Linked DNA regions of Homo sapiens: region 1 is linked to region 2. Evidence: fine-mapped expression QTL. A gene starts in region 2. The other region holds a variant in brackets. All regions are shown on one strand. Distances are from middle to middle. Region 1 overlaps BTBD7 (BTB domain containing 7). Region 2 holds the start of BTBD7 (BTB domain containing 7).

The links. PIP is the estimated chance that this variant, and not a neighbour inherited with it, causes the effect.
Region 1: its variant is the best candidate, but not a certain one, in a credible set for the expression of BTBD7 in fibroblasts (GTEx, PIP 0.53).

Annotation. Positions count from the first base shown.
Region 1 is chr14:93,236,484-93,238,983 of GRCh38, forward strand. BTBD7 (BTB domain containing 7) reads right to left here. Exons shown (of 11, transcript NM_001002860.4): 11 at 1,067-2,500. Among named protein-coding and RNA genes, the nearest start is that of UBR7, 30 kb to the left of the region's middle. The variant G/A (reference allele first, on the strand shown) is at 1,025.
Region 2 is chr14:93,331,574-93,334,073 of GRCh38, forward strand. BTBD7 (BTB domain containing 7) reads right to left here and starts at 1,463. Exons shown (of 11, transcript NM_001002860.4): 1 at 1,247-1,463. It also overlaps a transcript of UNC79 not described here.

The DNA of each region.
Region 1 (2,500 bases), 95 kb before region 2:
AATGTTGATTTATTCAATTTTCTTGTTTAGATTTAAGAAGCTCACCCACAGAAACCTTAGATTTTATTTTATCTTTATACCCTTCTGTTAAACCTAAGATGGTTACAAACTATAAAGCAATAACTTGTTAGTAAGGCATGAAGAGTGAGATGCTAGGACAGAATTTGGCACTGAAATGATAAAAAACATTTTAAAGAGCTCGCTGGTTGCAGTGGCTCATGCCTATAATCCTAACATTTAGGGAGGCTGAGGTGGGAGCATCACTTGAGCCCAGGAGTTTGAGACCATCCTAGGTAACGTAGTGAGACCCCCTCCTCTGTCTCTACAAAAAATTTTAAAAATGAGCCAGGCATAGTGGTGTAACACTGACTGTAGCCCCAGCTACTCGGGAGGCTGAGGTGGGAGGATCATTTGAGCCTGGAAATTGAGGCTGTAGTGAGCTGTGATCACACCACTGCACTCCAGCCTGGGTGACAGAGCAAGACATTGTCTGAAAAATAAAAAACAAAATAAGAGCTCTTTTGTAGCAATTTTAAAAAATGGAAATTAGAAAACTTTCCATTTTGCGTTTTTTTTTTTTTTTTCCAGAATCCTAGACTCTAGACCATGATCTCATTTCCTTTTGAAATTGAAAATATTACTGAGCCTGGGTGTGAAAGCAAAGGCAAAGCTCAGAATCTAGGCCAGGTCTCTGACCCTCGAAGGGCCCTGAAGAGCAGGACACATCCAGGTGCCTGGTTCACGTGGGTGCCATGCTGAGCTTCCTGCAATCCTGAAGACCCCTGTGAGAGGAACTTTCCGCTCAAATTTGTAAAATAAAATTTCTCAGAAATGTCTCAATGAAATAATAGAAAATAATGAACTTGATGATTCAGAATAAAATGTGTGATTTCCGAGAAAACGATGATGATGATGATGATAAAATGCCTCTGAATGATTGAAATCCTAGAAACAGAGAAAATCAACCTAGAAAACCTCCCAATTCTACCCTCCAGGGGTGCAATGACTTCTATAATTGAAGACT[G/A]TATGCTCCACTGCTAAAACAGACTGTATCCAACTCAGCAGATTCTATACAAGCCATTTATTTGAAATGCCAACTATATGTAGGATAAAGTCAGTGTTACATGCTTATCAGTAACAGTAGAAAAATAGAAGCAGTGAAAACCTCTGTACAACTGTAATGGTACTCAAAAGAGAAATGTATCGTTTTACAATGCTTCACACAGACGAATTCAAGTTTGGAGGTACCTAAATAAAAATACTATATATTTCTTTAAAAATCACTATGTACAATTGAAGCGTAAACAAGTTTTACAAAGTACTGGTTATGCAGGTTGTAGAAAACACTTGCATAGGACATGAAATCAGTTTAAGAAAAATTTCTGAGCCTTTAGCATTGAAGGCACTTGACTTTATACCAGTAACAGCACAACCACAAGAAACGCAGTGTTGTAGATGATTTTCCACCTCTCTGAAGTACAGATGTGGTGCATACACAGCAAGGAGAGTTCAGGAACCTTTATCTCTCAGCCACCCCATCGAAGAGCAGGACTTGGTACCGCCTGCCCATGTAACCCAGATACAGTTACATGTAGGTACAGATGATGAAGCTTCCAGAGCTTATCTGATCTCTTAGACAGAACTCACATAAACACACAAATACAAGAGGTTATTTTCAAGACACACACTTGCAAGTAATCTTTCTATAGAAATGGCCACAGCATTATAATATTCAAAATATGGAAGATTGACAGTCTGAGGATTTTCTAGAGGAAAAAAAAATCAAAGGACTTGCCAAAAGGATAACTACATAACAGATATGACAATCTACAGGACAAAAAGACAACATGTCACCAAATATTGTTCATACAACAGCGTTAATGGAAAACAGTAAAACACCTTTTAGCAGTGTGCATGTTAAGTCTTTTAGTAAGATTATCTGTAATGAGGTTTGAAAGTAAATCACTTAGTAGACAAAGTAAACCACCACAGAACCAGGAATAGCACCCATCACTGCTGCTTTGTCACTCCAGAAAGCTGAAAGTCAACCGAACAATGAAAAAAAGTCAAAGAAGCATTTCCCTTTGAATTCAGTCCTAAAAATATGAATGCCTTATAATTAATTTCAAAATAAGTATCTTACAAGTGTTTCATGAAACATTGTTTTCCTAAAAGGCAAATTCAACATTATGAAAATATATATTTTGCCGGGTAGTTACTGAGAAATGTCAATCCTTTCAACTCTAGAGAATGATGCATGGAGGTCGGCTTTGAGCCCCACTGCCGCTGGCGCGTGTTTCCAATTTGCCTTCTGCATCGGCACCTTAATGCAGATGTACAAGGACTAAGCTCATTGCTAGAATGGCAACAACAAACCAAAACAAAAATCCAATGAAGGATGGCAGATGCAATAAAAAGTTTCTGAGGAAGCAAAAACAAGAATTAGTTAAGGCTTCATAAAGAATTCTATAAGAAGATTTAAATGTCAAGAATTCACTGA
Region 2 (2,500 bases):
GGGACAAAAGATTGTTAGTTGACCAGACCGGGCGCGGTGGCTCACGCCTGCAATCCCAGTAGTTCGGAAGGACGAGGCGGGCGGATCACCAGAGGTCAGGAGCTCGAGACCAGTCTGGCCAACATGGTGAAACCACGTCTCTATTAAAAATACAAAAACTAGCCGGGCGTGGCAGCGGGCGCCTGTAATCCCAGCTACTTGGGAGGCTGAGACAGGAGAATCGCTTGAACCTGAGAGGCGGAGGTTGCAGTGAGTCGAGATCGCACCACTGTTCTCCAGCCTGGGTGACAGAGCGAGACTCCGTCTCCCCCCCCCCAAAAAGGTTGTTAGTTGAAAAAGCTAAGTAATTCTGTAAAAATGTCTACTTTCTCATTACAGTAAGATGTTTTCGCAGAGTTAACAGTGCTCTGGTGTAGATAACCAAGACTGCTTCTGTAAATTAGGCCTACTCCAGAGTACTTATTATCTGTGCTGGTATGTGAAGACGTGCAATTGTAGTTCACAGGAGAAACAACACTCCTCAGAGTTTCTTGAAAAACGGTGAGAAAGTTCTCACCCTCGGGGTAAAGCTAGCAAACACTGTGCAAATAAGGTACTGAAATATGCACACTTTTTGCCATTCAAGTAGTCCAACAAGCACAGCCTCCTCTTCTTTATCAAACACTCGGTATTGTCTCCCTCCCAACCTGTCAAAGCTCAATTCCAGGTTTATCCCGCAATAGTAACTTACCCGGACAATCTAACTTCCCCTGGGAGTAGCAGTCCTCAGGCCTGCTCCCTTCCCAGACCCCGCCGGCCACTCTCACGCCCACCCCTGGCGGTCGCAACCCCGCACCCGGGTAAACACGCGCCCCCGTCTCGGGAGCGGTTTCTCAGCGTCCTGGGAGCGACGGGTCCCGCCCCTCGGCGCCCGGAGCCCAAAGCCGGCCGGGCTGCCGTCGCGACTCCCTCGGGCCGCTCTCCCCGCCCCGAGCGCCACACCTCGCGCCCCTGCCCCAGGGACGGCGGCGCGCTCCAGCCCGCCCCTCGGAGCGCACAGAGACCGGCCAGTCCGGCGCCGCCGCGCCTCAGCCCCAGACGGACGACTGGCCCCTCCCCGCCCGGCGCCCCAGCGCCTCCCGCGGCGGCTTGGCCCCAGCCCCGGCGCCCCCACGCCTAAGAACAGCCCCTTCCTCTCCCGGACGCCCCGCGCCACACCGGACACAGCCTCGGCTCCACAGCCTCAGAGACACCAAGGGACACTCACCCCGGAGGCTCCTCCCGCCGCTGCTGCTGCCGCTGGGACCGCTGCCGTCGCCTCCGCCGCCGCCGCCACCAGCACCGCCGTCCGCACCGGCGCCAGCACCCCCGGCCATCCTCCTCCCACCGCCGCCGCCGCCGCCCTCTCCTCTCCTGTCAGTGGCTCAGGCTCCGGGACTGCTCCAGGTTCCCCTCGCCGCCATTTTGACTCCTAGACGGAGCAGGAGGGGCTCGGTTCGGCGTGGCCCTGGGGCGCCTGCGCGGCGCTGCGGAGCCGGCCGGAGCCCCCGCCCTCCCCTGCCGTCGTCCCGCTCAGGGTCACGTGGCCCGACGTCGCCGCGCGAGTCGGGCCGCGTGGGGGGGCGGTGCGTTCGCTGGATCCATGGGAGCGGAGTGCGCGCGCATTATTTTTGCTCGTCGGCTGGGAGCCGGGCGTCGGGTCGCTGGGAGTTTGCCTCTTGTGGCAGCATCCTGCTTAGTCCAGCGAATTGTGACACATTATTAAATGTATCAGAATATAAGAACTGTGTCACTACTACGTCACCAGATGGCCATTTCCACGAATTCATGTTTCCGTTCGGCGGCCGGCGTCCCTCGGGTGGTCGCATGCAATGAGTGCATCTTTCTCGAGAACAACTCTTCCGCGGAAAGTCATTGCTGACAGTCCTGGCATTCCGGTGGCTGCTTCTTGGCAGTGAGCACTTGTCTATCGTAAGCACTTGTCTGCATGGTACTTTTACAGGCACCACCTTGCTACTTGTGTAGTAGGTTAAAAAATAATCTTTAAGACACTGAAAAGTTTTCCTTAACAAGATACCCCTGTAAACAAAGGACAAAATTGATGAAAACACACAGTCGCCACGTGGGAGAGCCAAGTCGCTCTTCCCTAGATGCCCCTTGTTTGGGGGTTTGCAATAATTTCAGCGATGCAATAACAAAAATACTGTATTTATGGGGCACTGTCGTTTTCCAGAGAGATCCATGGTTTCATTTGAACGCCAAAGCCACCCTTTGTGGTAGTCAGGATAGGTGTTTTTATTGCTGTTTTACAACCAAGGAGACAGGCTCAGAAATACTAACAAGTAGGCAAGCCAAGATCAGAACCCAGGCATTCTGAACCCAGTGAGGAGGCACCGTTACACCTCCTTTTCCTCTGATAGACATTAGCAACTCTGGGAATTTATTTGAAAGTATTGTATTTGCATTTTCAATCTCTACCCATTGTTTAACAAGTTTTGTGTCACACAGTTTTTTGTTGTTG